4 linked regions of the Homo sapiens genome follow. The protein of the gene in region 1 purifies or fractionates together with the protein of each later gene. This does not show direct contact. Each region holds a gene or a part of one and is shown in the gene's direction. Other genes may lie near its edges.

The links.
Region 2: the proteins of GPAT3 (region 1) and CHP1 purify together in Homo sapiens (affinity purification with mass spectrometry; one large-scale study listed by BioGRID and IntAct). This does not show direct contact.
Region 3: the proteins of GPAT3 (region 1) and EIF4G3 purify together in Homo sapiens (affinity purification with mass spectrometry; one large-scale study listed by BioGRID and IntAct). This does not show direct contact.
Region 4: the proteins of GPAT3 (region 1) and UBE3B purify together in Homo sapiens (affinity purification with mass spectrometry; one large-scale study listed by BioGRID and IntAct). This does not show direct contact.

What each region holds. Positions count from the first base shown.
Region 1 is NC_000004.12:83,596,551-83,604,718, forward strand, and holds part of GPAT3 (glycerol-3-phosphate acyltransferase 3), read left to right. Parts: intron 1-307; coding exon 308-363; intron 364-879; coding exon 880-965; intron 966-1,500; coding exon 1,501-1,629; intron 1,630-2,093; coding exon 2,094-2,173; intron 2,174-8,117; coding exon 8,118-8,168. UniProt on the Homo sapiens protein: Converts glycerol-3-phosphate to 1-acyl-sn-glycerol-3-phosphate (lysophosphatidic acid or LPA) by incorporating an acyl moiety at the sn-1 position of the glycerol backbone.
Region 2 is NC_000015.10:41,231,759-41,239,926, forward strand, and holds part of CHP1 (calcineurin B homologous protein 1), read left to right. Parts: intron 1-8,168. UniProt on the Homo sapiens protein: Calcium-binding protein involved in different processes such as regulation of vesicular trafficking, plasma membrane Na(+)/H(+) exchanger and gene transcription. Involved in the constitutive exocytic membrane traffic.
Region 3 is NC_000001.11:20,858,898-20,862,397, reverse strand, and holds part of EIF4G3 (eukaryotic translation initiation factor 4 gamma 3), read left to right. Parts: intron 1-65; coding exon 66-170; intron 171-1,880; coding exon 1,881-2,013; intron 2,014-3,500. UniProt on the Homo sapiens protein: Component of the protein complex eIF4F, which is involved in the recognition of the mRNA cap, ATP-dependent unwinding of 5'-terminal secondary structure and recruitment of mRNA to the ribosome. Functional homolog of EIF4G1.
Region 4 is NC_000012.12:109,492,309-109,500,476, forward strand, and holds part of UBE3B (ubiquitin-protein ligase E3B), read left to right. Parts: intron 1-5,509; coding exon 5,510-5,615; intron 5,616-5,924; coding exon 5,925-6,045; intron 6,046-7,324; coding exon 7,325-7,502; intron 7,503-8,168. UniProt on the Homo sapiens protein: E3 ubiquitin-protein ligase which accepts ubiquitin from an E2 ubiquitin-conjugating enzyme in the form of a thioester and then directly transfers the ubiquitin to targeted substrates.

The sequences.
Region 1 (8,168 bases):
TGTGGAGGCTGCAGTGAGCCGAGATCATGCCACTGCACTCCAGCCTGGATGAAAGAGTGAGACCCCATCCCCCACCCACCAAAAAAAAGAAAAAAGACTTACTTTGAAATTAGAGAAATTATAATGGTGCAGATCTTCTTAAACTTTTTTGGAAAGGAAACAACTCAAATTTATTTCTTTTACCTGTATCTCAATTATTTTCTCCTTATTGCTTCACAATTGTGCCAGTAAAGTGCAAGGAATATCAAAAAGGACATCCACCTCTCTCTTTATAAAGGCAGAATTTTGATCCTTTTTTTTTCCATAGACTAAAAGAACATATTGCTGATAAGAAGAAACTACCCATACTAATTTTTCCTGAAGGTAAGAATGGGCCTGCCTCCCGAGCTATAGTTGATAACAACAAACCATCAAAAGTGTGTGAGGAATAGAATTGCCATAGAATTGGCAACCTTAGCCCAGATCTCTGCCCTTAGAGGAATGGGATGGCACTCTCTGAGTTATTAATTCCTTGCTTTCTTTTGAGACTTGATAGAAGTCATGTTACCTTTTTAATTCAAAAGTCATTTCTGGGTAGTGAACTGAGAGCAGAATTGTCCGTGACTTTAAGGGTTGCATGTATTGAAATTTCACCTGTTGAGAAGTTGTTCCCATAGGCCCATAGAGTGTTCAGTAGAAAAGTAAAAGCTTGTTGTTAAACCTGCTTAGTCAGAACTATAGGATTACTACCTTGGCAGGGGTTCGTTTGTGATATGGTAGTACGATGCCTGTAATTTTGATATTTTAAATTATTTTATATCAAAATAATTTCTTTTAAAATTTATTTTTAAAATGACTGCCTTTAAAAATATTCACGCTCCTACCCTCACCCCCTTGCAGGAACTTGCATCAACAATACTTCAGTCATGATGTTTAAAAAGGGGAGCTTTGAAATTGGAGGAACCATACATCCAGTTGCAATTAAGGTAAAACAGATACCATAATAAGAATAATAATTATTATAAAGATATTGGATTGGTAATTTTATTTTGGTAGCATTTCAAACTTAAAATTTGCAAGAACGAGGAACACCAGTTTTCGGATGCACCAGTCCTCTGCACTTTGCCTCCCCTGCTTTCTCATGTGCTCGCTCTCTATATGTAGATAGATGTATACTGGGTGACTCTGTGCCAGGTGTTGTATTTGCTCATAGTGTTAAGTGAAACAGATTCTGTTCCTGCTTTCATCAGCCTTCTAGTTAAGTGTGGAGACAGATATTTAATAGTCATGTAAATAACTCTTGTTGGTGTGCTCTTTGGTTCTATTTAGAAAAGCAGTCATCTCTAGTCAGATGTATTAGCTGGCCCAGTTTACTTTTTTTTTGATAAATTCCATCAAGTGAAATAACTTTTTTTTTCTTAGAGTCTGATAAAGCTGTTTGGCCTACCACCTTTAAAACATTGGGCACGGATGAGAAACCACCCTTATTTCATAACTGAGATGTATTTTCTTTTTTCTCAGTATAACCCTCAGTTCGGTGATGCATTTTGGAACAGTAGTAAATACAACATGGTGAGCTACCTGCTTCGAATGATGACCAGCTGGGCCATCGTCTGTGACGTGTGGTACATGCCCCCCATGACCAGAGAGGTATTCCTTAGCTAACACTTTATCTAATCAGGTAGAGGCAAGGAGATCTTCACCTGAAAATCTGGGTGTCTCCCTTCTCCATGTCATGCTTTTCTGCTTTCTCAGCAAATGGGTCATTTTTTTAATGATGTATTTAGCTCACTTTAAATCAGACCATTTTATATTGAGAGATTATTTTCCACGATGGTTTTATAATTGCTGTTGGTTTATTGAACCTACAGATATTATCTTGGGTAAGACTAATAAAGAGCGTAATAAATATATGCACATGGTAAAAAATTAAACAATACAACACTGCATTTTCTTTATAGAACAAATGATATTTGCTATGATTGATTAAGAATAGAAAGCATTTGAGCTGAAATATGAATCTTATATTTTAAAACAAATACAAATGATTATGAGATGGTATTAAAAACTCGATAACTAAGATATTCTTGCAATTTTTTTTTTTTTTAAACCAGGAAGGAGAAGATGCAGTCCAGTTTGCTAACAGGGTTAAGTCTGCTATTGCTATACAAGGAGGCCTGACTGAACTTCCCTGGTAAGAGAACTTTCAGAAGTACTATCACTTTTTTTTTTTTTTTTTTTTTTTTTTTTTTTTTTTTAGAGAATGCCTCACTCTTTTACCCAGGCTGGAGTGCAGTAGCATGATCATAGTTCACTGTAGCCTGATCATAGTTCACTGTAGCCTTGACCGCCTGGGCTCAAGGGATCCTCCCATCTCAGCCTTCTGAGTAGCTGGGACTACAAGTGCTTGCCACTATGCCCAGCTATTTTAAAATTTTTTGTAGAGATGGGGTGTCCTTGTGTTGCTGAGGCTGGTCTCAAACTCCTGGACTTGAACTCCTGCCTAAGCCTTTCAAAGTGCTGGGATTACAGTCATGAGCTACTGTTCCTGGCCTTTTCTTTTTTTTAATTAAAAAAATCACTGGTAATAATGTCATTTATCATTCTAGTCAGTTATAGGTTTAGCTGAAAGTAATAGTGGTTTATATATAACAATGGCTTAAGTAAGATAGAAGTTTATTTCTCACTTAAACATAACCAGTGAAGGCTGGTAACAGCTCAATCTGTGTTGCTTTACTCTCCTCAATTTGTGCTTCTCTTATGGTCTAAGATGGCTGTTCCAACTCTACTCAGTGTGTACAGCAAATGGCTATGAGGAAGGAATTTTAAAAAGGACACACCCATCTCTAAGAGCACAAGCTGAGAGTTGTATATCCCACTTATGCTTGTATCCATTGGCTAGTACTCAAGTCATGTGATAACACCTAGCTGCAAAGGAAGCTGGGGAATGTAGTCTTTGTTCTGGGTGGCTATATGCCTATCTCACATTTAGGGTTCTTTTTCTTATGAAGAAAGCGGGAATGGATTTGTGAGTGGGGTGGGCATTGGGAGGCAAGGGGCTACTTACAGGCTCATTCATATTTAACTCTAGCTATAACTATATTGTAAGAAAACTGAACAACTTGAAAGAAGGGAAATAAGTGAAATATTTTAGTTATGGATCACTATGGCTTTAGTTTTTGTTTGTTTGAGGAAGATTGAATATAGGTGAATGTATTAGTCTGCTTGGGCTGCCAGACAAAATACAGTGGTCCCCTCTGGATAATGGGGGATATGTTCCAAGTGCCCTAGTAAATTCCTAATACCATGGATAGTACAAATCCTATATAGACTATGTTTTTTTCTATATGTACATAGCTATGATAAAGCTTAATTTATAAATTAGTAATAGAGATTAACAACAATAACAACTGATAAAATAGAACAATTATAATAATACACTGACTAATAAAAGTTATGTGAATGTGGTCTCTCTCTTTCTCAAAATATCTTAATATTTTCAGACCATGGTTGACTGTGGGTAACTGAAACCATGGAAAGCAAAACCTTGGATAAGGGGGGAGTTACTGTACCACAGACTGGGTGGCTTAAACAACAGTTTTAGAACTGTTATTTTCCCACAGTTCTAAAGGCTGGAAGTTTGAGATCAGGGTGCAGCATGGTCAGTTTTTGATAAGGGCTCTCCTCTTGTGTTGCAGATAGCTGCATTCTCCTGTGTGCTTACATGATCCCTTCTTTGTGCAGGCATGAAGAGAGAGTGCAAGTTCTCTAGTGTTTCTTTTTATAAGGGCACTAATCCCATGAGTGCTCCACCCTCATGACCTCATCTAACCCTAATTACCTCCCAAAGGATCCATCTCCAAATAGCACCATATTGGTAGTTAGGGCTTTAACATATGAATTTTGGGGGAGACAAAAACATTCAGTCTATCTCAGTGAAGGTTAACTATACCTACATTATAATGGGGGATTGAATTATTATTATTATTATTTGAGATGGAGTCCTCTCTGTCACCCAGGCTGGAGTGCAGTGGTGCAATCTGGGTCACTGCAACTTCCACCTCCTGGGTTTAAGCAATTCTCCTGCCTCAGCCTCCTGAGTAGCTGGGACTGCAGGCATGCACCACCATCCCCAGCTAATTTTTTTTGTATTTTTAGTAGAGATGGAGTTTCACTATGTTGGCCAGGCTGCCCTCCAACTCCTGACCTCAGGTGATCCACCTCAGCCTCCTAGAGTGCTAGGATTACAGACGTGAGCCACCGATCCTGGCCGGGAGATTGGATTCTTATTTACATACAGGATGTTAAATTAGCAGGCTGTCACAAAACAGTCTATACCTCAAGTCCTATACAGTTAATAAACTCCCTGCTGTCTTTTTTGGTGTTTCAAAAACACTTTGCAAGAAAAGTTTATTTCAGACAATTGTAGCAATGTTTCTAGGAGCAGGATTTGGCCAACTGAGTTAGGCTGTCAGCCAGGAAACCAGGGACCCTCCTGAACCAGCAGAGGATGGTTTAAGGTGTCTGCCTCTCGAAGAAGGGCTGGCTAGATATTACACAGTAAGCATTCACTTCACATCATTGATAGGTTCTTGTAGGCTGTGACCTTAAGCAAAATGACTTTATAGTAGGTTCTTGAATAAATAACATCATTTTGTTCAATGTTGTTTCTTTATAATGTTGATGAGAAAAAATATTGAGTTTTTTATGCATCATTTTGTTTAAAGTTGCAGTTTCTAAGAACCTATCAACAATGTTCAGGGAGGACTTACTGTACTCCATTATGCAAGGGTGGGGAATAACACTAAAATATTTATCCATTCACATAGCGTGAATACAACTAATTGCATCCAGGTAAACCAGTTTCTGATATCCATTATGCAAATTAACAAACCACTAATTTCTACAGTGAAAACTCATTTCTAAAATTTGTTATGCAAGGACCTGGTGCAGTGGCTCATGCCTGTAATCCCAGCACTTTGGGAGGCTGAGGCAGGTAGATCACCTGAGTTTAAGAGTTCGAGACCAGCCTGGGCAACATGGCGAAACCCTGTCTCTACAAAAAGAATACAAAAATTAGCTGGGCGCCATGGCGCACACCTGTAGTCCCAGCTACTCGGGAGGCTGAGGCCTGAGAATCCTTGAACCTAGGAGGTCGAGGCTGCAGTTAGCTGAGATCGTGCCACTGCACAGCAGCCTGGGTGACAGAGCGAGACCCTGTCTCAAATAAATAAATAAACAAATAAATAAAATTTGTTATGCTAATTAACAAAGCTTGAGAAATCGATGGGCAATAAAGATAAAGATAGCTGAAGCCATTAGTGGCATCTCTGAAAGGCGGCCTTCTGATTAAATGCTAGCTGACCACCCTGGAGTAAGAGTTCTTGACTAACAAGGTGTATGACTTGAGTTCCATACATCCTGGAGTATGAAACTGACTAGTCCTAAGGCATAGGTTAAGACTAAACATTTGTATTACACTGTCTACATTGGAATATGTTAAACTAAATGACAGAATCATAGCATCACAAAACTATATAAAACGACCTTGGTCCACAGATGTCCTATAACCCATGGTCATACGTGCAACTGGGTTCCTTTTCCTTATTTAAAACTCTTTACTCACTCTTTATCTTACCTGACACTCAGCCCTCCTGCTTCTATCCTGAAGTCAGTGTCTGTAGTCTCAGACACAGGAAGGGAAGAAAGCCTTGAGAGACAAGAACAACCTAGGGGAGTCAGCCAAGTACAGACTCTCCATCAGAGTGGCTGAACTAAATCCATCAAAAATGATCCTCAGAATTGTCCAGTGTCCTTTTTTCAGGCCATATGCAATTGTATAATAAAATTACTTTTAATTACCTAGCCTCTTAAAAAAAAGAAAGTGGCCTCATTGCCTTTCTAGATTTATTTGTCATGTACCTATTGGTTATGAATTAACATATCTAGATTGTTTTTTCATAGATTGAGTGAAAATATAATTTTATGATCTTAAACTGGCTTTTATATATGGCTGCTCCCTCTCTTAAGAACTAAGACCTGCTGCCATTGCAAAGGGGAATTGGATAAAATTTTGAAGTCTCTAAGGGGTGGCAAATCACAGTTTAAGTGCTTAGAGCAGCATGAGGTTTACTGGGTGCTTGGGAAGGAGAATTGTACAAAATGATGTCAGATTGCTCAAGACTTACATTTTTGCCTGTTTTGGGCTTGGATCTTGTGAAAGGAGAAAGGCCTTTCTTATTTCTTTAGTTTCCTTAGTTCTCACTATTCAGAATTCAGGTAAGTGCTGTTAATAGAAGAAGCTCATTTGGATAAAAGAGGCTTATGTGGACAATTCTGTGGACCTAACAACAATTTATAATCTTGTTTCATGAAAACCTCCCACAACTGACCCACTGGATGATTTGTGGATCACAGTCTGTTTTTAAGTTGAGGACTTATTGCTGTGTCTTAGATTTGAGTCTAGAAGCCAGAACATTGCATTTGTCTCAAGCCGGTGTCTCTGTGGAGGTCAAGTTCTGTCCACATGGCATTGAGTTCACTGGCTAACCTACGATCATTCACCATCATCAGAAAGCATTTGGTAAACATGCATGCTTAACTGGGTTAAAATTAAACAGTCAGAGTATAAAGTAAGCAAGTTCTCAGCCCATGCTCTCCTAGCAGTTAAAATCTAAAACTTTAGATTAGGAGCCAGATAGTGACCTATGATAGTCCAAACTACTCCCAGCAACTCCAGTTTGTTGTTTCTTTATGTGTAGTCCAAAGAAGGAAAAGCATGCAGAGTTCTTATACCCAGGCAGGCACCCTGGAGAGAGTTCAAAGATTTACAGGCTCTGAATGAAGGAATGCTGCTTACATAGGCACTTCTGGTTGAATGCAACTTATGATTTTGTTATTTTATTCGGAATCTGTTTTGGAATATAAATGATTATAAATGCTGGAAATATAGTGCTTTGAATGAAAATACAACTTGTTAGACCGGGCACGGTGGCTCACGCCTGTAATCCCAGCACTTTGGGAGGCTGAGGCAGGCAGATCACCTGGGGTTGGGAGTTCGAGACCAGCCTGGCAAACATGGAAAAACCCTGTCTCTATTAAAAATACAAAATTAGCCGGGCCTGTTGGTGCATGCCTGTAATCCCAGCTACTCAGGAGGCTGAGACAGGAGAATCACTTGAACTCGGGAAGTGGAGGTTGCGGTGAGCCAAGATTGTGCCATTGCACTCCAGCCTGGACAACAAGAGCAAAACTCTGTCTCAAAAAAAAAAAAAAAAAAAAAAGAAAATATAACTTGTTAAACATAGATAGGGTTATATTTGAACAATGATTTATCTTTTTTGAATAATCATTTATCTTTAAGAAATTTACCCACACATATACAGTACCCTTACCATTTCTTCTGTGTATATTTTAAATTTTCCTGTGGTTTTCTAGTAAGACATAGGTAGACGAAAAACCAGTATTTTGTTTTCCTTAAGGAATAATATAGAGAAATAATCCTAGTTTTAATAATCCTTGTTTCAATCCAGTTTTTGTTTGTTTGTTTGTTTGTTTTTGAGACGAAGTTTTGCTCTTGTTGCCCAGGCTGGAGTGCAATGGCGTGATCTCGGCTCACTGCAACCTCCACCTCCCGGGTTCAAGCGATTCTCCTGCCTCAGCCTTCCAAGTAGCTGGGATTATAGGCATACACCACCATGCCCAGCTAATTTTGTATTTTTAGTAGAGACAGGGTTTCACTATGTTGGCCAGGCTGGTCTCGAACTCCTGATCTCAGGTGATCCACCCACCTTGGCCTCCCAAAGTGCTGGGATTACAGATGTGAGCCACTGTGCCTGGCCAATCCAAATATTTAATACACCACCCCTTAACTTCTAAAGAAACTGAGTTGGGGATATTGTTACTTATTTTAACCAAACATCAGAGAGATTGTTCCTTCCTCAAAGTAATGTGTATTTGGCAAGTGGTAGGGCAGAAACTGAAACCTGGGTCTTCCTGTTTCCAAATCCAGTGTTCTTTCCCTTATTTCATCCCAGCTGCCTAAGCGTCATGGTATCATGCAGCATGTAATTATTAAGTTAACTCTTTTAAATCACCGCTGTAAAGTATCTTTTATGTATTTGTCTTTCTGTTTGCAGGGATGGAGGACTAAAGAGAGCAAAGGTGAAGGACATCTTTAAGGAAGAGCA
Region 2 (8,168 bases), on another chromosome or scaffold:
GCACCACCCTTCCCTATGAAGAGGCATCCTGAACAGTAGGTAAAGCCCGAGAAGCAAATTCAGGAACTCGAGATGGATTCTGTAGAAAATCCGTTTCTGGGTAAGGACCTAAAACCTCTGACAACTATGGGAAATTACAAACAAGTTCTTGTCACAAATTGGGAAAACCACCCAGAAAGCAAGACCGTGTAGTAAGGCTTTGGGAGACATGACCCGATGCCTGGAGACCTTTAAACAATCAGGGGTCTGGGATTGTGAGACTTCTTTCAATCTGAACTTCTAGAGAAAAAACACGGATACTGTGACCACCAGTTTTTTACTTACACGACGATACTTGCTGTCCTAATCTCATATATGTATTGATTTCTACTATGCTGGTGTACTTTTTTATTCGCTATTGAAATTGGATGTGCTCCAAAAATCTCCGTGTGAATTTGTACTAGGAACTGATTTTTTTTTTTTTTTTTTTTGAAACGGAGTCTCCCTCTGTCAACCAGGCTGGAGTGCAGTGGCGTGATCTCGGCACACTGCAACTTCCGCCTCCCAGGTTCAAGCAGTTCTCCTGCCTCAGCCTCCCAGGTAGCTGGGAGTACAGGTGCCTGCCACCACGCTTGGCTAATTTTTGTATTTTTGGTAGAGATGGGGTTTCACTATGTTGGCCCGGCTGGCCTCGAACTCCTGACCTCAAGTGATCCACCCACCTCGGCCTCCCAAAGTGCTGGGATTACAGGTGTGAGCCACCGTGCCCTGCAGAACTGATTTTTTTTTTTATAGTCCAGTCTCTTCCTCATTAGTCTGAACAAAGGAGCAAAAGGACTCGGGATTCTGAAGCGCTGTAAAATACCATCATAACTTTGAATAGTCCTTGATAATGCAATGTATGATACAATTGTATTGATGCATACAATATTTTATCTTTTCAGTAAACCTTTATGATTCTTATTGAGTTAATGAAGGATGTAGCACCTGAGCTCTGTCTCTTCATCATACTTGTCTTTGATAATGACATGACCAGTAACTCACTCCGGCCCATATGCAGATAGTACTGAGGAGTGCTATGGGGAACTACAGAATTTTTCAGGCCTGTTTAAGTGCTGTTCTCTGCTTTGTGACAAGTTCAACTTTCTGGAGTTTTCAAGTTGGAAGGGATGTTTTCTAGCCCCACCCCTTTCTGGACTGGTTTGCTTCTTTCAGCCTCCCCTAAAATATGGCCCTTAAGCCTCTCTGTAAAGACATTTAATGATGGTAACCTCTCCACCTACCAAGGCAGTCCTTTTCACGATTTGAATGACCCAAAGTAGTTAGCTCTTTATAATTTGCAGTACTTGTTTGGCCACTGACTTACTCTGACCCTCGGAGTGGAGACGCAAGCAGTTTGGATTCAACAAGCATTTTATTACGTTTTGTGGCCATAACTTCTGGCCACATTTGTAATTAGTACTACTTTAGGTCTAGGGTGACACCGAATTAAAGTATTTGTGTTAAAGAGTCACATGGAGAAATAAGCAGAATCAAAGAGAAATAAATATAGAGTCACATAATGAGAAAGTGTAAACCATAGTGAAGATGCAAAAAGCCATTTTTGCTTCAGAATGAAGGGAGCAGTAATCCCATTCTGGTTTATATACATTTGACCAAATGGAAATGACCTGGATGGGATATTTTTACCATGTGGCTTGTGGACAAACAACTAAGTGCTCATGGAAAAGCTGTTTTCCCCATTGCCAAAGAGTGAGTCACTTGTGAGGGAGATTCTCTCCACAACCAGTGCAAATGTATGTATTGAGCCAGAATGCTTAGTGAAACAAGTGCTTACTGAATTTTTACAGTGTCTGTTCAGTACTGTGCTAGGTACTCAGAGCAGATGGTGACAAAAAACGCCCCCAACCTGGTTGGGGAGATAAGCCCAAGAGAGTTATGATTAGCATCATGACATAAGAAAGCTGAGAATTGTGTGTCATCCACCTTCAGAAATCAGGCAAGAGAGAGAGTCCTTGTGGGCTGTCCTCATGGAGGACAGGAATTGGGCCTTGATACATGGGTGGAGTAGATTTGGATAGATTAACCTAGGGCATTTTGGGTGACTTCCAGGAGAGATCTCCCCCTAAGCCTGCTACAAAGTCATTCCTTTGCCCTGGGAACCATCAGTTTATCCAAATAGTGTCCATCATCAGAGTTGTTTTTTCTTTTTCTTTTTCTTTATTTTAGAGACAGGGTCTTTGCTCTGTCTCCCAGGCCGGACTGCAGTGGCTTGAGCATAGCTCACTGCAAGCCTTAAACTCCTGGGCTTAAGCCATCCTCCCGCTTCAGCGTCCCAAGTAGCTAGGACTACAGGCGCATACCACCATGCTTACCTGATTTTTATTTTTATCTTTTGTAGAGATGGAGTCTTGTTATTTTGTCGAGGCTGGTCATAAACTCCTGGCCTCAAGTGATTCTTAGGCCACTTCAACCTCCCAAAGCACGGGGATTACAGGTGTGAGCCACTGCGCCAAGCCCAGAGTTGTTTTTTCAAGGAGTAATTTGGTATGATGCAAAAGATTTTGAAGAATAAAAACGGATATCTGGAGTGGGTAGAGAGGTGGAATTTGTCCCATTTTCATCTGCCTTTTCTTCTATGAAGAATTTGGAAAACTATCTATCAGAAGCACTTTAAGAACAATTATAAGACATTTTACTACTTCCTTTGCCAGTACAAAATGTAACATAATTGAGGAATACTAAATTTATATTCAGTGCAAAAGCTGTGCATTGGAATTTGATGATTATATTTAACCATATTTTTTGCAAATTTAAAAAGATTAGAATTTCTACATGACTAGATTAGCTGGTATTTGATATTTAATGAATAACAGTAAGTGTTTGGAAAAGTAATTCTGGATAAGAATTACCTGTGATCCTCAGTTTCATCATCTGTAAAATTAGAATAATAATAGTGCCTACTTTATAGGATTCTTACGACAATTACATGAGATGAATTATGCAAACTACTTAGAATAGTGTCTGGTATAATAAACTTCATGTGAGTGTTATTATTTTGAACCATAGTTAACAATCGTCTTATTGGGAAAATACCATTTGCATGTACTAGTTATAAAAACTATGTGTAGGGCTATATCATTGGGGAGGTGACAGCATTTTATACTTCTTTTTGTAGTGGACAGTTGATTAGGAATTAAGTACAGATGTTTTGCCAATTATAAGGAAATAAAATTTTTAAAGGAGTTTTTAACAGTTTATGAAACTGTTATGATGTTTTAACAGGAATTGTCTAAGAAATGCTTTCTATTGGCATATTTGCTAAATTATCTTTGTTCTACTACCTTCTTTCAGACTTCTGCATTTTCATAAAGCTTATTTGAAAAAAAGGTGTAATCGGGGATAAAGCCACAAATGTCTTAGGAGTTTCTGTAATCATCACCCTTAATTCACTTAATTGTAGCAATAAGCTGGCTGTGAATTACTTAAAACTTTATGAGGCCAGGCGCAGTGGCTCACACCTGTAGTTCCAGCACTTTGGGAGGCCAAGGTGGCAGATCGCTTGAGCCCAGGAGTTCAAGACCAGCCTGGGCAACATAGGGAAACCCCATCTCTACAAAAAAATAAATTTAAAAAAAATTAGCTGGACATGGTGAAGCGTGCCTGCAGTCCCAGCTACTCAGGAGGCTGAGGTGGGAGGATTGCTTAGGCGGGAGGTCAAGGCTGCAGTGAGCCATGTTCGTGCCACTGCACTCTGGCCTGGGAGAAACAGACCCTGTCTCAAAAAAAAACAAAAACAAACAACAACCACAAAAACACCTTGATAAACAATTCATGCCATTCAAGTAGTAATGAATGCAGATTATTTTTAGTCTCTACCTTTTGGTATATGTCATGTGGTACGGGAAGGGTGTTGAACAGGTTTAGGAAGTAAGTTGCACAGGTTGGTAAGGTTTTGTTTGTTTGAAAGAGTGTAGTAATGATAGAGTTCTAACAGAGTACAAGCCTGGCAAAGGCAATTGCTTGAGAACAATATCATGGCTAGAATGTAAGTAGAAATTCAACTTCAGGTTTCTCGTGCCTCCAAATGTAGGACCCTTCACAGCCCTCACCAGCCTGAAGGTTCTGTCACTTCAGAAAACCAGGCTGTCTTCTGCCTCCTATTGAAATGGAAATGCATGGATAACTAACACCTTTAACTGGTTTTGGGTTAAGTGATTTGTAAAGCTCTGTACTTTTTGAGTTCTAGTGCAAAGTTTTATTCTCATTTGTTGCCATAAAGGAGTAAGAAGCAACTATTTGTCAATTAGAGAGGGCATTGTGGGAAAGAGACCCTAAGAACTTTTTTTTTTTTTTTTTGAGACAGGGTCTCACTCTGTTGCCCAGGCTGGAGTGCAGTGGTGCAATCATAGCTCATTGCAGCCTCAAACTCCTGGCCTCAAATGATCCTTCCACCCCAGACTTTCAAAGTACTGGGATTATAGATGTGAGCCACTGTGCCTGGCAACTACCTGATTTTTAATTTTTATTTATTTATTTTTTCAGACAGGGTCTTGCTCTGTCATCCAGGCTGGAGTGCAATGGCATGATCACGGCTCACTGCAGCCTCAAGCTTCTGGGCTCAAGCAATCCTCCCAGCTCAGCCTCCTGAGTAGCTGGGACTACAGGCACATGCCACCACGCCTGGCTAATTTTTTAATTTTTTGTAGAGATAGGGTTTCACCATGTTGCCCAGGCTGGTCTTGAACTCCTGAGTTCAGGTGGTCCGCTCATCCCAGTCCCCCAAAGTGCTGCGATTACAGAGGTGAGCCACTGGCCAGGAACTTTTTTGCGGGGGCAAGGAGGGGATGGTGGTCCAGACCAGAGAGTAGTTGGAGGTTTATTCATTCAGAAGATAATTGACCCCAGCAGCAGCTGCGAAGATATAAGCTTTATTTTTGTAAATTTCTGGATAAACCATTTGAAAGTTGCAGGTATTGGAACTCTTTACCCCTTCATACTTCTGCATGTATCCCTTAAGTATTGGGATGGTTTTTACGTAACAACAATACTATTATCACACCTAAGAAAGTTGATAATACTTCTTAATACTATCTTTTTTTTTTTTTTGAGACAGAGTCTTGCTCTTGTTGCCCAGGCTGGAGTGCAGTGACTCGATCTCAGCTCACTGCAACCTCTGCCTCCTGGGTTCAAGCCATTCTCTTGCCTCAGCTTCCCAAGTAGCTGGGATTACAGGTGCCTGCCACCAGGCCTGGCTAATTTTTTGTATTTTTAGTAGAGATGGGGTTTCGCCACGTTGGCCAGGCTGGTCTCGAACTCCTGACCTCAGGTGATCCACCCACTTCAGCCTCCCAAAGTGCTGGGATTACAGGCGTGAGCCACCGCACCTGGCCCCTTTTTTTCTTTTTCTTTTTTTTTTTTTAATTGAGATGGAGTTTCACTTTTGTCGCCCAGGCTGGAGTGCAGTGGCGCGATCTCAGCTCACTGCAACCTCCGCCTCCTGGCTTCAAATGATTCTCCTGCCTCAGCCTCCCAAGTAGCTGGGATTACAGGCATGTGCCACCACGCCTGGCTAATTGTTTTTATTTTTAGTAGATACGAGGTTTTACCATGTTGGCCAGGCTGGTCTCGAACTCCTAACCTCAGATGATCTGCCTGCCTCAGCCTCCCAAAGGGCTAGGATTATAGACGTGAGCCACCTTAATATTATCTATCATTCACTTCCTATTCAAATTTCTCCAATTATAAGAAGATAGATTTTGTTTGTTTTATATAATGTTTTAAAATCTCTCTTAATCCCTAAGAGACTAGTCCAGGGCTTGAAGTCTTCATGTCAGGGGGAATGTTAAGGTGTAGTCTATTCCGGGAAGCGCAGGCTTCAACTTTCCTTTATCTAGAGCTACCTTTAGCTGTACTTGTAATCTTTACATAGGTTATCAGTCTGTTCTTCTGCATTAAGATTTGGAATAAAGGCAAGGACAAAATAACTTTTTCTTTTCTTTTTTTTTGAGATGGAGTCTCGTTCTGTCACCAGGCTGGAGTGCAGTGGTGCAATCCCGCCTCCCGGGTTCAAGGGATTCTCCCGCCTCAGCCTCCTGAGTAGCTGGGACTATAGGCACGTGCCACCATGCCCGGCTAATTTTTGTATTTTTAGTAGAGATGGGGTTTCCCCATGTTGGCCAGGATGATCTTGATCTCTTGACCTCGTAATCCACCCACCTCCCAAAAGTGCTAGGATTACAGGCATGAGCCACCATGCCTGGCCCTCCAAAATAACTTTTTCTTACTCCCTTTTTGTTTTTATTCTTTCCTCTGCCACTTCTGCTTCGCACTTCTGTGAAATGCCTTCCTCCTCTTTGCACAATGCAGTGATGATAGAAAGATTTCAGCAACGTTAACAGGGTCTTTTTTTGTTTTTTTGGCGTGTGTTTTTTTTTTGAGACAGGGTCTCACTCTGTCACCCAGGTTGGAGTGGAGGGGTGTGATCATAGCTCACTACAACCTTGAACTCCTGGGCTGAAACAGTCCTTCTGCCTCTGCCTCCTAAATAGCTCAGCGTACAGGAATGCACCACGATGCCCAGCTAATGATTGATTGATTGATTATAGAGATGAAGTCTTGCTTTGTTGCCCAGGCTAGTTTTGAACTGGCCTTTCGTCAAGGGATCCTCCCACTTTAGCCTCCCAAAGTGCTAGGATTACAGGCATGAGCCACTGCCCTCAGCCAAACAGGGTCTTTTAAATAATCTTTTAACAATTTAAAATGATTATATACCCATACCAGTGGAGAAAAAATACAGCTTCATTCAAGACATGTTTATAGCAGGGCACGGTGGCTCATGCCTGTAATCCCAGCACTTTAGGGCGGCTGAGGCGGGTGGATCACGAGGTCGGGAGATCGAGATCATCCTGGCTAACACGGTGAAACCTGGTCTCTACTAAAAATACAAAAAAAAAAAAAAATTAGCCAGGCATGGTGGTGGCAGGTACCTGTAGTCGCAGCTACTCAGGAGGCTGAGGCAGGAGAATGGCCTGAACCTGGGAGGCAGAGTTTGCAGTGAGCCAAGATCGCGCCACTGCACTCCATCCTGGGTGACAAAGCAAGCCTCCATCTCAAAAAAAGAAAAAAGACACGTTTATATGCACGGCCTTCTCTGAGAGTAACTGTCAACTCCTGTTATTTCCTTTGGGTTACCAAGAATTGTGCAGGTTTTGGGCACCTATCTGACTAGCTTAGAGCCTTCTGGGGAAAATACTTCACTGGAAACATGATCTGCCTTCATTCACACCAGTTCCAGTACCTTTCTACACATGGATGGTGTAGCTCCTTTATAGGTAGATTGGGATTGTTCTGAGATTGCTTTATATTCTTTGTCACAGTGAATTTAGTACCTAAATTAAAGCCTTCTCTCCTTCTTTTTGTTAACAAAATTACTTGTAACCATATCGTTATGGTTCTAAAATTTGTTCTAAAATTTTGGAGATAAGTTTAGATATGACCATATTGATTAGTATTAAAAGTTGACATTTGGTTGTATGTTTCTCCACTGACTCCCATATAACCCAGTTCGTCCTGGAAGATAGTTTTTTTTTTTTTAATGTTTTGGCTACTTATTTACATTATTTATTTTTAACATATTAGTACATTATTTTTTGTTATCGTTTGTTTTGTTTTGTTTTGTTTTGAGGCGGAGTCTCACTCTGTCGCCCAGGCTGGAGTGCAGTGGTGAGATTTCAGCTCACTGCAACCTCCATCTCCCAGGATCAAGCGATTCTCCTGCCTCAGCCTCCCAAGTAGCTGGGATTATACCACCACACCTGGCTAATTTTTGTATTTTTAGTAGAGACAGGGTTTTACCATGTTGGCCAGGCTGGTCTTGAACTCTTGGCCACAGGTGATCTGCCCGCCCTCAGCCCCCCAAAGTGCTGGTATTGCAGGCTTGAGCCACCAGGCCTTGCCACATTTTGAATTTAAGCAGCCATAAACTGGTCTTAACATACTATAGGAGGTTTCAGTGCCCAGTTATTTTATTTCTTTTTTATTTATTTATTTTTTCGAGACAGAGTCTCCTCTCTGTCACCCAGGCTGGAGTGCAGTGGCGCAATCTCAGCTCACTGCAAGCTCCGCCTCCCAGGTTCAAACCATTCTCCTGCCTCAGCCTCCCGAGTAGCTGGGACTACAGGTGCCTG
Region 3 (3,500 bases), on another chromosome or scaffold:
TGTAAATTGGTAAAATTACGTTTAAGTTTCTCAGACAGGAGTACTAATGATTTTGTCTCTTGCAGCCACGTATGGACCAGTACTTTAATCAGATGGAGAAAATTGTGAAAGAAAGAAAAACCTCATCTAGGATTCGGTTCATGCTTCAAGATGTTATAGACCTAAGGCTGGTGAGTGGGAAAAAAAATAATAATAAGCCTGCTGGTCCAGTCTCTTTAAAGGAATTGGGTTGGGGAAGGATGTCCTGTTGTTTACATGTGTAAAGATAGTGCTTTTGCTTCAGGACTCAGAATTTGGATTGGCAAACTTTCCGTGGGAGAGTTCTGAGAAGGGACAAAAGGCCTATTGCCAGTTACGTGCTTCTTCTCCTTATTCTGATTATCAAACCATATTGCAATTTTGTTTGCGCTTTGTTTTTTTTTTTGAGATAGAGTCTCACTCTGTCGCCCAGGCTGGAGTGCAGTGGCTCAATCTCGGCTCACTGCAGCCTCCGCCTCCCAGGTTCAGATGATTCTTCTGCCTCAGCCTCTGGAATAGCTGGGATTACAGGCACATGCCCCCACACCTGGGCAATTTTTGTATTTTTAGTAGAGACAGGATTTCACGCTGTTGGCCAGGCTGGTCTGGAACTCCTGACCTCAAATGATCTGCCCACCTCAGCCTCCCAAAGTGCTGGGATTACAGGCGTGAGCCACCACGCCCAGCCACTTGCAATTTGTAATCAGCCATTCTGAATTCAAACTCCATTCAAATGTAAATTCAATTAAATTTAGTCTTTGTGAGCTAAATAATCAGCAAGTCTCATCTCCACAGTAAATACCTTTAACTCTCTGAGCCTTACATTTTTAATCTCTAAAATGAGGATGTTGCCTACCTTGCAGATTTGTTGAAGAGTCAATGGAATAATTACGTAAGGTGCCCAGCTCAGATATTGGTGTTTTCTTCTCTTTCGTTTTTCCTGTGACCCTCCTATTCTGCTGCTGGGTTTTTTTTGTTTTTTTGTTTTTTTGTTTTTCTCATTTCTCTTACCGGGTGCAGTTTTTGTTACTACTACTTTTCTCTGTTTTAAGTTTAACTCCTACAGGGAGTTACTCTTTTGTAAGTTTCACTCCTACAGGGAATATACTACATCAAGCCCTACACTAGAGAAAGTGAACAAAGCCCTACCTCTTATTTCTCCTCCACCCAGGCCAGATAGCATTGATGATGATTCTTTATCTTGCTAAGACTAGATGTGGTTGTCTTCACCCATGTTATCAACCACTTATATCAGATGTTGGGACTGTTGCTAGAAAGAGAAGGGAGAAGTATAAAGTGACAACTTATTTTGTCCTTAATACAGGGGATAACCAAAGGGCAGAGTGGTATGGACCTTTGTGTAGAATATCAGAACCATGATATTGGAGAAATAAAAGCATGAGTCATCCTTGACTTAGAACCCCTATGGAATGTGATATGATCTGAGTAGTAATCCCACAGATTAAGGCAAGGCCAAGGAATCCTCATCATTTTTATTTTTCTCTCCTCCTTTCAAATGTACAAAATACTGATACAGATAAAATCCATTTAGTCCACAGAGAAATATATGCCATGCTTAAAAATATAATAATAAATTTGGGCCAGTCTTTCACCCTGTTCTTTGTATCCATTGGCTATTGGAATATGTAGTATACAATTGGCCAGTTTTGACTGAGAAGATTTTAATCCTTCAGCTCTAATCCTAAACTGCTCATAGTGTCATCTATAAGATACATGAGAAACTGCCATAATACAGCTTTTGTAGGTATTTTGTACTTTTCCAGTAGTAAAAATTGCTAATTTTTAAATTTTAAAAAATGTTCAGTTTATCTGGCAGATAACCTTATTTTCTGCTTTTATAGTGCAATTGGGTATCTCGAAGAGCAGATCAAGGGCCTAAAACTATCGAACAGATTCACAAAGAGGCTAAAATAGAAGAACAAGAAGAGCAAAGGAAGGTCCAGCAACTCATGACCAAAGAGAAGAGAAGACCAGGTGAGGCCGGAATCCACCAGGGTTTAGAGAACTTGGAAGTTTCAGGAATACATATTAAGAATTATGTATTTAGGTATAAAATGAGATCAGAAAGAACAGCCCAAAGAATAGAGTGGTGATTGTTAGGTGAAGCAGTTTCACCTGAAGAGTAAAGTTACTGAGTAAAAGTAGAGAATGCAGGAACAAAGCATGATTTCTTTCACTACTTAAAAGCCAGTAAGCAATAAGACTTTATTGAGCATCTTCTATATACTCAGAATTGGTGAGACGAGAAAAGGAAGTGGAAAATGTAGTTACTTCCCTCTCAAAGTGTACAGTTTATCTGGTAAGGTAAAACTTTTGACAAGCAAAAGAGGAACATTTGTTAAGCAAATGGAAGATAGTATATCAATTATGAAATGTGTTCTCCATTAACTGTTAAAATTTAGAGAAAAAGAAGAGAGACAGAAAGCTGAAAGAAAACTTTATTTAAGAAAGGGGCACTTTGTAGCAGGCCGGACGCAGTGGCTCATGCCTGTAATCCCAGCACTTCGGGAGGCTGAGGTGGGTGGATCAATTGAGGTCAGGAGTTTGAGACCAGCCTGACCAACATGATGAAACCCCGTCTCTACTAAAAAATTTGCTGGACATAGTGATGTGTGCCTGTAGTCCCAGCTATTCAGGAGGTTGAGGCAGAAGAATCACTTGAACCTGGGAGGTGGAGGTTGCGGTGAGCCGCGATCGCGCCACTGCACTCCAGCCTGGGGAACAGAGTGAGACTACATCTCAAAACAAAACAAAACAAAAATAGAGACATGCAAAAAAAGTGAAAGATGAAGTAGAAGGCATTTTAAACCTGAGACGATAGTCCATTTACTAAGTTTAGGAACGTTGGAAAAGAAAACCTTTTTCAGAGGGAAATGATAATTTTCTGGCTGATAGTAAATACTCAGTAACCATTAGTTATTGTCACAGACACAGTAGAGCTCATAGTGAAGTTGTTAGGAGAGATGAATTCTGCATGGAAGAAAGTTTACTTTTAAGTTTCTTGAGATACCACACTTACCTTCCTCGCTCTAGTACCTAGTGCAGTGCCTTTTGGGTAATAACTTTTATTTATTATTGAACCAGATTGAGAGGGAAAAGGAGAAGATACCAAAGCCTAATTCATGGAGGATATTCACATATGACTAAAGGAAGAAAAGAACTCTTGGAAAAGTGCCAGACAAGTGGAGAGAAAGGACTAAGATACAAGTGTCATAGAGACAAGGAAGAAGCAAGTCTGTTTATGATCAGTAATATCAGATAGCACGGAGAAAATCAAGACGTTATGTTAGGACCAGAAAAGCTTTTGGATAGACAGTTCGGTGATCTTTCAATTTATTAATTCATTCAGCAAGTATTTTTTTTTGAGATGAGTCTCGCTCTGTCGCCCAGGCTGGAGTGCAGTAGCGCGATCTCGGCTCACTGCAACCTCCGCCTCCCGGATTCAAGCAGTTCTCTGCCTC
Region 4 (8,168 bases), on another chromosome or scaffold:
CAGCGGCCACATGTAACTAGTAGCAATTGTGTGGGACAGCACAGATATAGAAAACTTCCAGCATCACAGAAAGTTCTGTTGGACAAGGCTGACCTAGAGCAGGTCTGTCCGATGGAAACACAGTTAGAGCCACATTTAAAAAGCCAAAAGAGGCCAGGCACGGCGGCCCATGCCTGTAATCCCAGCACTTTGGGAGACTGAGGTGGGCAGATCATTTTGAGCTCAGGAGTTCAAGACCAGTCTGGGCAACATGGCCAAACCTTGTCTCTACAAAAAATACAAACATTAGCTGGGCATGGTGCCATGTGCCTGTGGTTCCAGCTACTCAGGAGTCTGAGGTGGGAGGATCACTGGAGCCAGGGAAGTCAAGGCTGCAGCGAGCCGTGATTGAGCTTCTCCAGCCTGGATGACAGAGTGATACCTGGTCTCAAAAAAAAAAAAAAAAGTCAAAATAAAAGGGAAATTTAGTATAATGATATGTTTTTATTTAAACTAATATATCCAAAATGTTATTTTTACATGTAATCAATATTTTTAAATTATTTTAATTAAAATTAAATGTGTTACATTTTTCTCTTCATGCCAAGTCTTCAAAACTGGTATGTACTTAGAGCACATCTGAATTTGGACCAGCCGCATTTTTAAGTGCTCAGTAGCCACATATAGCCAGTGGCTACCATATTAGACCACATGCCTCTAGAGGCTAGACCCTCACACAGAAGAACAGGATGTAACCGGTTATGCTATCATTAGTTATGGAAGTATAACTATTTATCTAATAAACAATTGTGCCTTCATTTCATACTTCTAGGGAAGTTATGTGAGTTGTATTTAATGAGCCCTAATGTCTAGGTACAAACAGGTTTTCCCAGAAGCCTAAGAAACAGATTCACTGCAACTGTCCCTACCCAAGTCACCTTGTGGGGCAGCTCATTCCAGCAGCATTGCCCACTGTCCTCTGGCAGACACAGTGAAGGTCAGCACACTGAGGCCTGAACTTTCAAGCTCAGGAGCAGCTCTGCCTCCCCCTCCACCTCCAGAGACACAAGCTCTAGGAGCACCTCACCTTTCTTACCTGTCCAGCATCCCTCCCCTGTCCTGGTGTGGTTGTAATTCACATATGATTCACCAACATGCTCACATCCAGTCATTCTACCACACTTAAATTCTCCTTTAAGAATATAACCAGCAGTCATCCTTGTAGTTTTTCTTCTCTGTATGTATTAGATTCCATTGAATCACTTGTTAAGGCCAGGCTACTCTAAAGCCTTTTTCCCAAATAGAACTTTTCCCCTCTGAATGTTTGTATATAATTGAACACAATCAGGACCTTTTAAAGTAAGATATCAGTGGTTTCATCATATAGGAATATAGTGAAAGTCTATAAAATCGTCAGTGGTGTGCCAAGATGTGATCACTAAATCCTGAAATATGAATAGCTAACATTCATGGGCCACACATTGTTCTAAAACTTTTACACGTATTAACTGACTCCTCACCACATTCTCTTATCTCCGTTTTATTTATTTATTTGTGAGACAAGGTCGTGCTTTGCCATCAAGGGTGGAGTGCAGTGGCATGATCAGAGCTCACTGCAGCCTCAAACTCCCGGGCTCAAGCCATCCTCCCACCTCAGCCTTCCATGTAGCTAGGACTACAGGCACATGCCCAGCTAATTTTTTTATTTTTAAAATTTTTGTAGAGACAGGGTCTCACTATATTGCCCAGGCTGGTCTCAAACTCCTGGCCTCAAGCGATCCTCATGCCTCAGCCTCTCAAAAAGTGCTGGAATTATAGGAGTGAGCCACCACACCTGGCTTTTCTCCATTTTATAGATAAGGAAGCTAAGGCCCAGAGAAGTTAAACTGTTTGCTCTTGGTCACACAGCAGGGAGTGGCCAGGCCAGAAATTAAACCCAGGCTATTTAACTCCAGAACTCATACTCTTTCTTCTTATTCTTTGTACTTGCCTCACATGTTGGACACATTTTTGTATTCTAAGAATAATATATATATTTTTTAGTAAATAGCACTTGAGAACCTTCCCAAACTTGCCCTGTTCCTCACACTGCCGTGGCATTGATTTTCTGGACGCCTAGTTTGCCCAGGCACTTAGTCATGTAACCACTAGCCGTGGCTTCTGTTTTTCCCCATATGCCTGCCCAGCTCCCTGGTTGTACTCTGAGCTCTCTGTTAGCAGGGACTGTGCATCAGTCATACCTCTTCTGTTTATCCTTCTCCTCAACCCCCCACCATGTCTGGCCCTGTTAAACAATCAAGTAAGCAGTGCACTTATAGACTTTGTCACCCAGAGGTACTTAAATGCAACAGCTACAGGTAGGCTAAAGAAAGATTCTGTTGACCTCATGCTGGGGAAATCGGTAATAAGAAATTGAGGGAGTTGTAGGAGTGTTTGCAGTGTGTGTGGTTTTTTGAGTCTGGCCTCATGCGGACTAAAAAGATCACACCCCTCCAAACATTGAGGCAGCCCTGCAGTCCTATAATGCTTCCACTGATACGTCGCTCCCAGTCAGGCAGGCAGGCCAAGTTACTTAGGGATATGGCCCAGGATGGAATCCATAGGTTTCTGTGAGAACCCCTAGAGAATGCCACAGCCCTTTGTACCCTTATAACAATGCAGTCCTTTCCTTGCAAATGCGAAGTGACTGGTTGTAGTTTTAGCAGCTTTCTCTGTGATTTGCTTTTCTTCTATTTAGGGAATTGTGCTCTTCTGTTTTAAACTTCTTTCTAACCTGCAGAAAAGAACATGGTTCTCTTTTCATGTGCCCCACTCAGATCAGAGAGGTTAGCTCAGTTGGTTAGCCTCACCTAGACAAGTGGTGAACATAGGTACTGATATTTTCAGCATTTCAGCTTCATAAAACATCCTTGTCCCAAAAATGGTACTCTTGAAAGTGAAAGTATATAGTGTGAATTCTGAGAGCCTAAATACCACTAACACCTCTGCTCATTGCTATTGGAGCACATTAGCTAGAAGAAACCTTTTTTTTCCCCTCTGTAAGTTGTTCTCATACCTTTTTTTCTGCATGACCTCTGAGTGATTTTTAAAAATAACTTTATTGAAGTCTAATTCACATCTCATACACTTTATTCATTTAAAGCATACCATTCCCTGGCATTTAGTATGTTCACAGAGTTGTGCAACCATCACCTGCTGAGACCAGCTTGGTCGGGGAGACCCTAACCCAGCGGCACTAGAGGAATTAAAGACACACACACAGAAATATAGAGGTGTGGAGTAGGAAATCAGGGGTCTCACAGCCTTCAGAGCTGAGAGCCTCGAACAGAGATTTACCCACGTATTTACTGACAGCAAGCCAGTGATAAGCATTGTTTCTATAGATTATAGATTAACTAAAAGTATTCCTTATGGGGAAACAAAGGGATGGGCCGAAATAAAGGGATGGGCTCTGGCTAGTTATCTGCAGCAGGAGCAAGTCCTTAAGGCACAGATTGCTCATGCTATTGTTTGTGGTTTAAGAACGCCTTTAAGCAGTTTTCCACCCTGGGTGGGCCAGGTGTTCCTTGCCCTCATTCCAGTAGACCTACAACCTTCTGGCCGTGGGCATCACGGCCATCACGAACATGTCACAATGCTGCAGAGATTTTGTTTATGGCCAGTTTTGGGGCCAGTTTATGGCCAGATTTTGGGGGCCTATTCCCAAAAATCACCACAATCTAATTCCATAATATTTTATCACCCTGAAAAGAAACCTAATACCCATTAGCAGTCACTCCCTTTTCCCCTCTCCCCAGAACCCCTGGCAACAACTAATCTACTTTCTATCTCTTTGGATTTGCCTGTTGTGGACATCTCACATAAATGGAATCACATCATATGTGGTCTTTTGCTACTGGCTTTTTTCACTTTGCGTAATATAATCAGAGTTCATCCACGTTGTAGCATGGATCAGTACTTCATGCATTTTATGGCCAAATAATATTCCATTATATGGATATACCACATTTGAGTTGTTTCTACTTTTTGGCTATTATAAATAGTGCTGCTGTGAACATTTATGTACAAGTTTTTGTATAGACATATGTTTTCATTTCTCTTGGGCATATTCCTGGGAGTAGACTTCCCTGGGTCATGTGGTAACTCCATGCTTAACCTTTTGAAGAATTGCCAAATTATTTTCCAGAGTGCCTGTGCTATTTTACCTTCCCAGGAGTAGTGTTGTGTGAGGTCTCCAGTTTCTCCACATCCTTGCCAATACTTGTTATCTGTCTTTTTTATTTAGCCATCCCAGTGGCTGTACAGGGGTATCTCACTGTTGTTTTGATTTACAATTCCCTGGTAGTTAGTGATGTTGAACATCTTTTCATGTGCTTATTAACCATTTGTGTATCTTCTTTGGAGAAATGTATGTTTAGATCCTTCGTCTACTTTTTAATTGGATGTTTCATCTTTTATGAGAGTTGTGAGTTCTTTATATGCTCTAGATACAAGTCCCTTTTCAGACAAGTGATCTCCAGGTGTTTCCTTCTGTTCCATGGGTTGTCTTTTCACTTTCTTGATAGTGTCTTTTGAATCACAAAAGTTTTAAACTTTGAAGAAGCACAACTTACCTGTTTTTTTCTTTTGACTCTTGTGCTTTTAGTGTGATAACCTCAGAAATCATTGCCTAACCTGAAATCTCAAAGCTTTACTCCTGTGTTTTCTTCTAAGAATTTTATAGTTTTAGTTATAAAACTAGCATTTAGGTCTGTGGCTCATTTCATTATTTTTTATATATGGTGTGGGATAGGGACCATTATTTTATCTAATAGTATTTATCTTTTTTTGATTATGGAAGCAATACATGCTTATTGTAGAAAACCTAGATAAAGCAGAAAAACATAAAAAAGAAAAAAATTTCTCATAATTCTACAACCAGAGATACATTGTTAACTTTATCTGTCCTCAATCTTTTAAAAATGTATCTATATTTGTGTTTATATTTCGAAACATTATACAATATATATACTTATATATAGTATACATACTATAGATACACTACATGTGTATATATTGTGTATCTATAGTGTATATATAGTTTTAAATAAACTGCTTAACTGAATTATGAGTTATTGGTGAGTTACCACAGAGTGAACACACCTGGGTAAGCACCACCCAATAGAGAAATCGATTATACCAGCACTCCAAAACCCCCTTTTTTCCCTCCCTCCCCATCACAAACTCCTTCCTCTTCCATGTATATAGTTTTTCATCTTGCCTTTTTTTAAAGTTCATTGTAGCATGAGCATTCTCTCATGTCAGTAAAATTTCAAAACTGGTTTTTCATAGCTGCACAGTATGGCATCAGCAACTGGACCATCACTGACTTGTCCATTTCCCCAGTGTATGTCCCCAATTTCAGCCTTCAGTTTTCTCAGAAATCCCACGCAGAATAATTTCTAGGAATTTGAGCACGTTGGTGGGGTTGTGCTTTTGTTCTGGATGCACACGGAGACCTGTCTGAATGAGTGGATCTATCTGTGTCTAGCCCTGTGATTGCTGCACAGTTCTCAGACAATCTGATTCGGCCGTTCCTCATCCACATCATGTCTGTGCCTGCTCTGGTGACTCATCTCAGCACAGTGACCCCTGAGGTAAGCAGGCTCTGTGAGTTCCCCGTGAAAACCCAATTGTGTTTTTCTTTTCTTCTTAAACATTAGAAAGTAAAATGGCTTCTCTGCTTATTTCCACACCTCCCTTTAATTGTTCTTTGGGACCAGTGGCCGTGATAGACACATTTGTGTTAGTAGCCCAAAGAAGTGGGTTCTTGTCTGTCCATTTTCTTCTTGGTGTTTGCTAGCACATCCTCCATAACCACGGGTGATCTGCAAGTGATCAAGTTCACTCTCTACAGGAAACTGTTTCTGGCAGTTTCTGATTTAACGGTCTGCTATTCTTTGCAGCGCCTCACTGTTTTAGAATCCCATGACATGCTTCGTAAATTCATCATATTTTTAAGAGACCAAGATCGATGCCGTGATGTATGTGAAAGTTTAGAAGGATGCCATACGCTTTGTCTAATGGGTAAGTATCCGTGGCTGGAACTTGATTGTGTCCTGGCCATCAGGGAAAGCCCGAGTGTTTTGCCTGTCACTATTCTAGAGATTTGGTTGTTTTCTGTAACAATTGGAAGTGCTTACAATAAAAAACACGTATTTAGATAGACAGTTAAAATAGACATGTAAATAAAAATCACATGGAAAATATTCCAGCCTGGCAAACTAGTTAAGTGACTGTTAATGAACATTAGATGTCAGCCTTTAGCTTCCTGGCAGTCAAGGAGAAAGTGAAAATGTGGTGAATTGCCTGGATAATTCCCATCTCAAGAGAGAAGGGAGGGAGTAGTTAGGTGGGGCTTATATCAGAGCAGCGCCTGCTTTACCTATTTTACAGTGTTTTCATTGTAGATGGAAGAAAGGGTTTATGAATAGAAGCATTTGAGGCAGAGGCACAGAATTCTCCTTGCCTAAATTTATTTTAGATAGGAAAAGTTTTTTTTGTTTTTTTTTTTTTGAAGACAGGGTCTCACTTTGTCACCCAGGCTGGACTGCAGTGGCACAGTCATGGCTCACTGCATCCTCTACCTCCTGGGCTTAGGTGATCCTCCCACCTCAGCCTCCTGAGTAGCTGGGACTACAAGCGCACACTACCACGGCCGACTAATTTTTGTATTTTTAGTGGAGACGGGGTTTTTCACCATGTTGCCCAGTCTAGTCTCCTTGGGCTCGAACAATCCACACGCCTCAGCCTGCGAGATTACAGACTTGAGATAAAAACTTCCCTGGGGCCAAATTTCATGAGGAGTTTCTGGTGCGAATGTTCACACGAGTGACGTTGACTAACTGGTGAACGTTGAATAACAGCGACTTCCCACGACACTCAGATACTCTTCAAAGACCATTTCTTATGTTAACCCTTGATTTTTAAGCATTAATATAATATTAAAATGTAACACTAACTAAATATCACCTACCTCTGTGTGCCTAACATTTTACCTGCCACTTCATCCTCATATGGAGAGTAGGGATCATCATTCCAATCTTACAAATGAAGAAACAAGTTTGAGACATGGGTTGACGGCCACGGCTCACCTTGTCTGTGGCATAGCCAGGATTTGAAGTCAGCTTGGCCCGTTTCTTACCTTTGCACCACACAGCAGCCTCCGGCATTGACAGGTGCCCCTTATGTGGAAATTTCTTGCTGCACATGGGATGTGGCCGCCTGAGCCACAGGCAGGGAGCAGGGCCGGGAGGCACCAAAATGTTTGTCTGGGCCCATCACACTCAGCCTTCTCTCTCTGTAGGCAACCTCCTACACTTGGGCTCCCTCAGCCCCAGAGTGTTAGAGGAGGAGACAGATGGGTTCGTGAGTTTGCTCACCCAGACGCTGTGCTACTGTCGGAAGTATGTGTCTCAGAAGAAGTCCAACCTGACCCACTGGCATCCTGTCCTTGGCTGGTTCTCCCAATCTGTGGATTATGGGTGAGTCCCAGATGCAAATCACTGTCTTTCCTGCCTCTCTCCCACCATCTTCTTCTTCCTTCTTTCTTTCTTCCAGCTTGTGGTGTTTTGTTTCTTATTATAAAAATAATATGTATTCATTATATATTAATAAATTGTGAGTAAGAACAAAAGAGGATAAAAACCAGCCCATTATCCTGTAAACCAAAGATAACTTGAGTGAACATCCTGTCAGTTTTCCTATCTAGAAATACTGATCCTTTTTTACAAAATTGAAATCCTATTATTTTGTATTTTGTTCCTTCCATTCAGCTATGGACCTTATCAATGTTTTTTCTTCTTCACTGTCACTTTTTGACTAGACTGCCATATTTTGGAGATGCTAAAACAAGACAAATGATTCAAAGGGAATAGAAATCACCCAAAATCCTTTTCAAGAGGTGGAATATAAATTTTTAAAAGTGTAATTATGAACTTAAAAACATGAGAAACACTAGACTAGAAGAAGGGAGATCAAGTAAGGTGCAGCTTCATGAATTTGAAATATCTACCTGAGCTGAGATAAAGTGGTTTCTGGAGAGGAACCAGCTCTGCTGCCCCAGCTGTTTTCTTGTTCACATATCTGCTCGAGGCATGGGGTCCCTGGCAGTTACCCTTGCAGCAGAAAACTAAAGGCCTGGGGAGGAA